Linked DNA regions of Homo sapiens. The protein of the gene in region 3 purifies or fractionates together with the protein of the main gene of each other region. This does not show direct contact. Each region holds a gene or a part of one and is shown on either strand. Other genes may lie near its edges. The genes, in order: RGP1, ZSWIM7 and RAB33B.

The links.
Region 1: the proteins of RAB33B (region 3) and RGP1 purify together in Homo sapiens (co-immunoprecipitation; one study listed by IntAct). This does not show direct contact.
Region 2: the proteins of RAB33B (region 3) and ZSWIM7 purify together in Homo sapiens (affinity purification with mass spectrometry; one large-scale study listed by BioGRID and IntAct). This does not show direct contact.

The regions. Positions count from the first base shown.
Region 1 is NC_000009.12:35,755,686-35,759,237, forward strand, and holds the end of RGP1 (RAB6A-GEF complex partner protein 2), read left to right. Parts: 3' UTR 1-2,900; downstream 2,901-3,552. UniProt on the Homo sapiens protein: The RIC1-RGP1 complex acts as a guanine nucleotide exchange factor (GEF), which activates RAB6A by exchanging bound GDP for free GTP and may thereby required for efficient fusion of endosome-derived vesicles with the Golgi compartment.
Region 2 is NC_000017.11:15,976,060-15,979,534, reverse strand, and holds the end of ZSWIM7 (zinc finger SWIM domain-containing protein 7), read left to right. Parts: intron 1-1,371; coding exon 1,372-1,488; 3' UTR 1,489-2,975; downstream 2,976-3,475. UniProt on the Homo sapiens protein: Involved in early stages of the homologous recombination repair (HRR) pathway of double-stranded DNA breaks arising during DNA replication or induced by DNA-damaging agents. Required for meiotic progression, hence for fertility.
Region 3 is NC_000004.12:139,460,589-139,464,240, reverse strand, and holds part of RAB33B (ras-related protein Rab-33B), read right to left. Parts: intron 1-3,652. UniProt on the Homo sapiens protein: The small GTPases Rab are key regulators of intracellular membrane trafficking, from the formation of transport vesicles to their fusion with membranes.

The DNA.
Region 1 (3,552 bases), on a different chromosome or scaffold from region 3:
GATCTGCCAGGAGGAGGAGCTCAGGCGGTAATGCTCACTCGCCTGCCGCCCACCTCCTGCTTTGTGCTCCCGCTTCCTAACAGGCCACAGACTGGTACTGGCCTGTGGCCTGGGGGATGGAGACCCCTAATCCATGTCACCTTTCCCACCTCTTTCAAAAACAGGTACCTCCAGGAACATTTTGGTTTTGGCCCTTGTATTGACTTCTGAATGTCTAGTTTGAGAAACTGTTCCCAATAAGCCTTCTTCCCCCAGATCTGCACCCTCGCCTCTACCCTAGGACAAGATGTCCTTTTCTCATCATCCTGCCAGGCTAACTTTAAGTCTCCTGCTTTTTCTCACTTGGATTTGGATCCATTTCTTCCTATTTCCGCTCATGTGAACTCTCCAGTTCTCCTTTCTCACCACTCTCCTGCTAGCCATCTCTTTGGCACTAAAGGCCCTGGTCAAATTGGATTTCTTTCATTTTTCCACACTTCAAAGACCCATGTTCTAGGTATTCTCCATAGGGATAGTCTCTTTGGCATTTATTTGGTTTTTCTACGTTTTCAGTCCCATTTACTCCAAGACTCACTCCCTGCCACCTAGTGCATCAGATACAGCTACTTCTGGCTGACTTTTCAAGGGGGACCACCCTACCTGTCATCTCTTCACTGTTCAGAAATGACTGTGTCAGTGCACCTCAAACTCCCTTGCTGTCCTTTTCCAAGGAGACAGCTAAGGTGGATGGAGATGCAGAATGGACCTCACGTTCGCCCTAGTCAGGACTGATACCCTTTCCGTTTCAGAGGATTGCCAAGAAAAAACTCACAGTTGAGGCAGGGTGCTCTGAGGTCGGCTGCGGTGTGGGAGGCACGGCCTGGGCCTGCTCTCTGGGCTGGAGCAGGTGGATTCGAAGGCCTGTCTAGCACGAGGGCCCAAAGGTCTTGTCAGTGGCCAGTAGCTCTGCCGCCTTTCCCAGAGAGGGGGTCCAGGGGACATCCTGGAAGGCTGGGCCCTGGGCCACCTTCTGCTCTTGCAAGCTAGAGCCAGCCCAATAGGGGGCGGATGTGAGTGGGGAGCTGGGGCGCATGAAGGTGGGGGTGATGCCGAAGGGGAAGGGATCGCCAGTGGGGATTGGTGCGTGTGCGGAAACGGGGACAGAAGTGAAGGTTCATCGCCTATAACGAAGATGAGGTAGGCATATAGGGGCTTCTGGAAAGCTAGAGGCTGGGCTGAGCCAGGAGTCCTCTCCCAGAAGTTGGGGGGCGGTGCAGAGGTGTGGGTCGAGCCCGCATGCGTGCCTGCTGGGGAGGGGGTGAGTGGTGAGGACCAGGCCCGCTGGGTCCTGGGGGCGCGGTGGCTGGCGCGCAGGTCCCGGAGGGGGCGGCTGGCGCGCACTACACGCTTGGGAACAAGGAAAACATCCGCCGGAGGCCCGGCCGGGCGGCGCTCCAGCCTCGGGGCAGGTGCGCGGAGAGGAAGTGAGAGCATTCCGGCCCCCCCACCCCAACCCCGGCCGCTGGCCCTCTGGTGAGTCACAGCCGACCCCCGCCGCCGGAGGGAGAGGGGAGCTGCGGGCCAGAGCCCCGGAGGGTCTGGAGGAGCCAGGAGGGTTTCTGGGAGCAGAGGGTCACTTAGTGGGCTTCTGTCGTGGTGTCGCTACGGGCGCGAAACGGACACTGAACACAGTCTGACTGTATGGAGGCAGGTGGGGAGGGATCCCCTGGGAGAACTTGGCGGGCCGAGAGCAGACCCCAGGGCAAGGAGGGGCCCCCGAGGGGGAAACCGGGAGTCGGGCAGGTGGCGTAACCCAGAAAGGGAAGGAGAGCCGGATTGATTGGGGTGAGAGAGGAAGGAAGCACGCCAAGTTAGGCCTGGGAGAACTGAGGGACCTGAGGAGGGAGGAGGGAGACCAACACAGGGTGGGAAGGCGGAAATGGCCAAACCCCAGGCATCAGGTCTGTCCAGAGGCTGACGTAGACAGTGAAGGGTGAAGGGTAGGTTTTAGGAGTAGGGGGAGTTATGATTATTTGGTTACATTTTGGGATTATTTGGTCTCACAGGTAGAAGGGAGCCTGCTGGTCTCTGTGTAACGGATGGCTTAAAAGCAAGGTTGTCTGCGTCTTGGATTACTGTCTGCCATTCAGCCTTTGCCAAAAAATTTGGCACTGATCTGCACATTTTTATAGTCATTTAAAATTGTATGACTCTGTCAAATGATTTAAGTAATTTTGGTGGATTTTTAAAAATAAAAAAATAAAAATAGAAAAGTTGCACAATCTAATTCAATATTTGACTTAAAACCAAAAGTGAGGCTCTCAGATTGGTAATATGGTATTCAGCCTTTTTCTTGTTTGGCTTTTGTGCCATTTGCCCCTCACTGACTTGATTGAATTCTTTGTGGCTGATGCCTCAGTTTTTCTGGATCAGTAGTGCTGCACTTCCACTTTTCCTCTCCCTCATTTTACTGTCTTTATTTTTAGCCTTTTTTCTGTGTAGCCCTCTAACCTGCCCTTTATATTTTGAACCAAATAAAACATTTCTTGGAATGGGAGCTTTGGACTACAGTATACAGACAAACAACTCACAATTTTAGCATATGAGGCTACTATCTTCTGTGGATGTGTATGTAATTATACAGTTTCTGTATTTATCCTGTGGCTGATAGAAAAAGTTAAAGCTGTTTAATTCACCATAGTATTTCTACAACACAGCAATTTATTAGTCTGACTTCTCTTCTAAAATCAACTCTAAAATGGTATTTTGTACTTGTCTCAGAGACGAATTCTGCCATGATCCTTATGATCTGTGTTATGTTGGGCCAAAGGTGATTACTTTATAAATTATAAAGATCCCTAAACTCTGCATTGCCTTTGGTCCCAAACAAGCAAATCTGGGTCAATTAATGAAAAAAAAAAGAAAAGAAAAGAAAATGTCTTACTTTGGGCCCTGTTGCACTCTCCCGTGCTGTTTTAGCCCCAGCCCTACTCTATTCCCAGTGGCCTTTGCCTTCATTCCTTCTTTGCTCTGCTGGGCATCTTGAGAGGAAAACTTCACACCGACTTCCTCTACTATAAATTCTCTCCCTCCTCTCAACTCTACACTTCTCTTTGCCAACATACACCACTACTGCTTCACTGATTTTTTTTTTTTAAGCCCACAGTCCTTTCTGGCTCTTTTCCACCTTTAACACTCTTATGTTGAAATCTTCCGTTTTTCCTCCTTTCTCTTTAGTAAGACCTCAGGTTTTTAAAAAAGCTAGGCTTGATTGTTTATTCTGCATGGTCCACTTCTGCCTTCCTTCCTCTTCTATTACCCTTTTCTTATTCTAGACTGTTTTTAAACTCAGTTATGCTTGCTTTCACCAAAGCCTTAACCTTTCCTGTGATTAGAAAAAGATGCTTATGTTTCCATTACTTTTCCTACAAGAAAACGCATTCTCAAATTCATATCCACTTCAAACTCTCCCAACGTTTTGCATCCAGAAGCATAAAGTGGCCATTATTGTGAAGTCCACTGAGTGACCATTTAAGCTTGGTGTTATGCCACACACTGTATAGTGAATTTCAT
Region 2 (3,475 bases), on a different chromosome or scaffold from region 3:
TGCCCGGCCACCACCCCGTCTGGGAGGTGTACCCAACAGCTCATTGAGAGCGGGCCATGATGACAATGGCGGTTTTGTGGAATAGAAAGCAGGGAAAGGTAGGGAAAAGATTGAGAAATTGGATGGTTGCTGTGTCTGTGTGGAAAGAAGTAGACATGGGAGACTTTCCATTTTGTTCTGTACTAAGAAAAATTCTTCTGCCTTGGGATCCTGTTGATCTGTGACCTTACCCCCAACCCTGTGCTCTCTGAAACATGTGCTGTGTCCACTCAGGGTTAAATGGATTAAGGGCGGTGCAAGATGTGCTTTGATAAACAGATGCTTGAAGGCAGCATGCTCGTTAAGAGTCATCACCACTCCCTAATCTCAAGTACCCAGGGACACAAACACTGCGGAAGGCCGCAGGGTCCTCTGCCTAGGAAAACCAGAGACCTTTGTTCACTTGTTTATCTGCTGACCTTCCCTCCACTATTGTCCTATGACCCTGCCAAATCCCCCTCTGTGAGAAACACCCAAGAATGATCAATAAAAATAAATAAATAAATAAATAAAACAAAAATTAAAATTAAAATTAAAAAAAAAAAAAAGAGAGAGTAGCCTAGAGACTCTGATGAGCATGTGGTTACAATACCTGTCTTCCTAGGGAGCTGTCAGATTTCAGTGAGATAATCTATGAGAAGCACTTCACAGCCTAGTGCCTCAAGGAATGTTAACCATTGCTGTGACAGCTTTCTGAAGGCAAGGAAGAAATATAACTTAGGACTAACGTGAGGAGTGCAGGTAGTCTGGGTTTTCACCATGGGTTACATACCTTGTGCCTGATGGATCTAAGCCATTTCCCAAAGCAGCAGGCAAAGTAAGTCTGTGTCCACTCTGATTTCTAAAGAGAATACTCCTGTCTCATCATCTTTATCTGCAGTTTTTATTTATTTATTTTTTGAGACAGTCTGGCTCTGTCACCCAGGCTGTAGTGCAGTGGCGTGATCTCGGCTCACTGCAACCTCCACCTCCTGGGTTCAAGCGATTCTCATGGCTCAGCCTCCTGAGTAGCTGGAATTACAGGCATGTACCGCCACACCCAGCTAATTTTTGTATTTTTAGTGGAGACAGGGTTTTGCCATATCAGCCAGACTGGTCTCGAACTCCTGATCTCAAGTGATCCATCCGCCTCAGCCTCCCAAAGTGCTGGGATGACAGGTGTGAGCCACCATGCCCGGCCCATCTGCACTTTTTAGACAATCAGTTAGAGACCCCGTAATCTGTATGCTCTAGTCTTCTCCTGCCAAATAAGATGGTAATGAGAAATCTTGGTTAGACTGGCCAGCCCTGGCCCTGCCTGTTTCTAATAGGTGTGTGTGTTTTATATTCCAGTGCAAGCATCTCTTGGCAGTTTACCTGAGTCAGGTTATGAGGACCTGTCAGCAGCTAAGTGTCTCTGACAAGCAGTTGACTGACATATTATTGATGGAGAAGAAACAAGAAGCATAAAAGGTACAGATTGAGCATCATTCTTTCAAAATAGAATCCTGTCAAGAAATGCATTGAAAGCGTCATGATTCACATGGAAAAGAGGTGAAATGGATCTTCAGACACTTCATGTTACTGTCCCTTTTCCCTCCAGGACTGCAGGAGGTGCTGTGGGTTGGAGCCGTGGGCTGTGGAGGGTTTGTGTATGATGAGAAGCCCTGTACAGTCTTGTCAAGAAATACCCTGAGCCAGTCTCTGAGACGCTTCGGTAAAAAATGTCCCTGGATGGAATCAAGATTTTAAATTCAAATAAAGCCTAATATCATGTTGTGTCCACATTATTTAGTCTTTTTTTTTTTCTTTTGAGATGGAGTCTCACTTTGTCGCCCAGGCTGGGGTGCAGTGGCGTGATCTCAGCTCACTGCAAGCTCCGCCTCCCGGGTTCACGCCATTCTCCTGCCTCAGCCTCCCGAGTAGCTGGGACTACAGGTACCCGCCACCATGCCCGGCTAAATTTTTGTATTTTTTTTTTAGTAGAGATGGGGTTTCACCGTGTTAGCCAGGATGGTCTCCATCTCCTGACCTAGTGGTCTGCCCGCCTCGACCTCCCAAAGTGCTGGAATTACATGCATGAGCCACTGCGCCTGACCCTATTTAGTCTTAAGTAACTAACTGAATTACTAGTAATTTTTAAAAGGTTGGAATGGTGGGCCAAACAGTAAGATGAAGTTTCGACGAGTAGGTCAGTTCTTTTCCTTGGGTCCAGGAAACTATTGAGCAGCAACAGAAGATCAGAGCAGAGATGTGGCTAAACAGTAGCAGGTATGAAAAGACTTAGAGGTTCTGGTTTCTGTAAGCTTCAAATATCTGTGATGCTTGTGCCAAAACAGCTTAAGTAGACTGTATTGTTTGAGAGTTAGTATCGAGAACAAGGGAAGAACTGGTTTCACTCTGCACTTCTGATCTTTACAACAGGGCAATTGAAGGAACAGACTAAAAATCGTGTCCTGGAAGGAAACTACAGGTACTACCAGGGATTTTCAGTCTGAAGAAGAAAAGACAAAATAGATGACAGAAGGAGTATTAGAAGGGAGAGCGATGAGACTCAGTTGGACACCGAGAGAGCAAAGAAGCAATAATACGTGAAGATGAAAATGAAATCAATTTCAGCATAAGAAGACAAGAACTTATGGTAAAGCTGCCCACAGCCAGAAGAGGATCCTAGAAGGACAGGAATTCCCTGTCTGCAGCATTTCATAAGCATGTAATATTGTTGCAGGGATACTGCAGAAGGAGTTGAAGCAGTGGACAGACAGATGATATAGGTGATTTTACAGCCTAAGAAAGCCCTGTGCTTGTGCCCCCAAAACATGAGGTGCTAGTGAATGAATGCTGGGGGAAAGCCCAGGGCCTAGGTGTTGCAATGTTCTGTGGTTGGCAGATGCTTTTTGTTTTGTTAAAAAGTGCAACAGATAAAATTTATCAATACTTTTCTGCTACTCAGGAAACTTGGACTCAGCATAACTTACTTTTTTTCCAGCAGCCTTCAGGGTAAAGTTTAGAAGGTAGATGCAACAAGCCAATGCAGCACCCTAAGCTTGTCTTTTTAAGTTTTATTTTTATTTAACCTAATATACACAGAGTTAAATAATTTTACTTCATAAAATTTTCACACTTTGAGTTCCAAGAACTTAACCAAACTTGAAATTTGGAGAGAAGCAAAATTCCCTATCTATCTATCTAGCTCTAGAAGGCAGAATTTGGTAGAGGAGGGATCCCATTTCACCAGTTTCTTCCCCACGGGTAGTTTTCTGTATATGGAAAAGAATGGAGCTTAAAATTATGTGATGAAAATTTGACTTATGAGACTATCAATCAATCATTTCCCTAAATTAATACAGCAGTTTCTTGATTGAATACTTTATTTATATATATATATATATATATATATATATATATATATATATATTTTTTTTTTTTTTTTTTTTTTTTTTTTTTTTCTGAGACA
Region 3 (3,652 bases):
CAGTGGCACAATCATGGATCATTGCAGCCTCCACCTACCAGGCTCAATCTTCCTGCCTCAGCCTCCTGAGTACCTGGGACCACAGGCGCGTGTCACCAGACCCAGCTAAGTTTTTACTTTTTGTAGAGACAGTGGGGGGGTGGTCACACTATGTTGCCCAGGCTGGTCCCAAACTCCTGGGGTCAAGTGATCCTCCCACCTTGGCCTTCCAAAGCTTTGGGATTATAGGCAAAAGCCATCATGCCCAGCCTGAAATAACTCTACACTTTACTGTAGAGCCATAAACGTAACTAATAATGAGGCATTTACAAAGGAATATCTAAAAAGAAGCTTCAAAATTTCTCTCATGGAATAACTAAATGATGGGAAGGCTTAGGGCTACTGCTGCCTGCTGCCTTCCAGGCCTGCACACTGAGATGAGAAGGCAAGGAGACAGGAAAGGAGCAGTGAGAGACCCAGCCAATACACGACAGGACAACTGATTAAAAACTGTTGACCATAAAAGGCTAGAGAAAACTTTGAAGGAGACAGACAGACAGACACTAGGCGAAAAGCAAAGCCTAGAAAACTCTTGAGGCTTAGCTATGAGTGGAATGGTTCATGATGTTTAAAAAAGAAGAGAAACTGATACTTTTGGACCCAAGGAAGTGAGACGCTTTCATCTGGTAAATGTTAAATTAGGAAATATTTTCAGAGAAATTTTTCCCAATTTAATACTTAAATATCTTAGGAAAAATGGCTAATATGTGCTCACAGCAATCTTATTGCCATTTTAAACATTATAAAGATAACATAATATATACTTGGCCAGGGGTGGTGGCTCACACCTGTCATCACAGCACTTTGGGAGGCCGAGGTGGGTGGATCACTTGAGGTCAGGAGTTCAAGACCAGCCTGGCCAACATGGTGAAACCCCGTCTCTACTAAAAATACAGAAAAATTAGCCAGGTGTGGTGGCACACGCCTTTAATAGGCTTGAACCTGGGAGGCAGAGGTTGCGGTTAGCTGACATCGCACCATTGCACTCCAACCTGGGCGACAGAGACTCCATCTCAAAAAGAAATTATTATTATCTTTTATGACAGGGTCTCACTCTTGCCAGGTTGGGGTACAGTGGCACAATCTTGGCTCACTGCAACCTCCACCTCCCATGCTCAAGTAATCCTCCCACTTCAGCCTCCTGAGTAGCTGCGACTACAGGAGTGTGTCACCACACCCAGTTAATTTTTGTGTTTTTTGTAGAGATGGGATTTCTCCATGTTACCCAGGCTGGTCTCGAATTCCTCGGCTCAACTGATCGGCCTCCCAAAGTGCTGAGATTACATGCATGAGCCATGGCACCTGGCCCAAATTCTTCATTTTAAAGGCAGTATTCCTTTCAAATAATCACAAAAATTTGTTACTTGTCTTCTTAGGAAGCTAAAATTTATTTATTTTAAAATTTTAACAGGGTTTAAGTGAACACAGACCAATACATGAAATGGCAGCACTCAGAATCAGTAGAGGTTGAGAGAGACTCCAGAAAGCTAAAATTTATTTCAAAGATTTGCCATTTGATTCTGTACACCAGACACACACATTTCTACTCCACATACAAAAAGCAAAGAGTTCTCTTGAGATGTCACTAATACCAGTTATGATGTTGTTTTACAACTTAAATTGTTAACAGAAGCTCTTATGTAGTTCTTATATAGATGGTCTTTTACATGAAATAATAAAAATGTGTTCTTTGAAAGAATAGGGGAAAAGGAAATTTAATAGTTAATCAGGGATGGAAAATTTGGATTAAAACCTTTAACATTTTAGGTCAAGCAAAAAGAGTATTAAATCAATTTAAAGTCAGATCATTTCTCATTTTGGATAATAAAACTACCAAAAGAGCTGTCATGGCCGGGCGCGGTGGCTCACGCCTGTAATCCCAGCACTTTGGGAGGCCGAGGCAGGCGGATCATGAGGTCAGGAGATCGAGACCATCCTGGCTAACACAGTGAAACCCCATCTCTACTAAAAATACAAAAAGTTAGCCGGGCGTGGTGGCAGGCACCTGTAGTCCCAGCTACTCGGCAGGCTGAGGCAGGAGAATGGCGTGAACCCGGGAGGCGGAGCTTGCAGTGAGCCCAGATTGTGCCACTGCACTCCAACCTGGGCGACAGAGCGAGACTCCGTCAAAAAAAAAAAAAAAAAAAAGAGCTGTCATCAACAACAAGAATCTACTATTAGTATTTAGCAGTAGCTAGGTTGCCATTTTTGTTAAAACTTGATATTGGAATTTAAACTAGAGATTCATGAAGTTTTATATAAAGGAATTATACGTATATATGAAATTTTTTTTTTTTTGAGATGGAGGCTTGCTCTGTCACCCAGGCTGGAGTGCAGTGGCACGAAGTCAGCTCATTGCAACCTCTGCCTCCCAGGTTCAAGCGATGACAGGCGTGAGCCACCATGCCTGGTCAAAATTTTTTTTAAATAAAGGATTTAATTACAGAATAATAATGGTGATAAGGAAGAGAGCAAGCAGTGAGAGAAAGCATTAGTTATCACCTTAGAGGAAAAAATACACACAATTTGGAACAGTAATCTTAGTTATCCATCCTCTTTCCCTATTCTTTCACTGCCTGTTTTTTTTCCCCACTACCATCTCTCTCCTGAAGGAATGAGCATTTACTCTTAAACTATTAATATTGATTTGGGGCTTAGCACATTCCATGTATACTCCAGGAACTCTGCTAAGTCCTTTACATGCCCTTATTTAATATATGCAACCCTATGTAATAATTACCCAATCTTCAGATGAGGAAACTGAGGTTTAAGTAATTCACCCAAGGCCACAAAACGAGTAAGTCTTAAGGCCAGAATTTAAACGTGGACTACCTGATTCTGTAGAGAATGCATGTTGTTTTCTCCAGCCTAACCCTCATTCTCCCTTCTATTAATAGCACCCTATTTTCCTTGGGAATCGGCCCTCCCCTGCTTTCCATTCACATGAACCACTGGCTCCCAGGGAGGGCATGTGACCTACGTCTGACCAATCAGAGGTTCGCACCCCCACACTCCCTGTCACTACCATAGTTTAGGAATGGGCATGTAGAGCTGCAGTTGGAACTGGCAGACAGAGAAATTTACTTCTAGGCTTTTTAGTTATATGAAAAAATAAATTCCCTTTCTGCTTAAACTAATTTGCTTAGAGTCCTCACACAGTCTCCAAAGCAAGAGATCTTGACCACTGATTCCAGAGAAGTAAGTAATTCTCTTCTCACCACCTCTGAATATACACACCAATGCTGCCTTCTTCGTCTTCGTAAGAAGTGACAGAAGAGAATCATAGGCTTCTGAAATCAGGCTAGAAAAACAACAGGAATTCTGACCTGGTTCCTGGGATCCTTCAGATAGTAGGAAAGCTTGGGTCTGTGAAAATGTATATTACTTACACCATGCCAGCCCCAGGACCAAACCCCAGCAATTCAAAGTCTTTTTCAGACCAGAAACTGCCCAAAAGTTTCTGAGCTAAGGGATCACAAGATTCTTCAGCATTCTTAGGATACCTGAACTGCGCATATTCTCATTCACTGAATTTCAATGCAAATCAAATCAAATCAAGAGAACCAGTTTGGTATCTCTCCAACCACCAATACCACATTTTAAGAAATAAAGT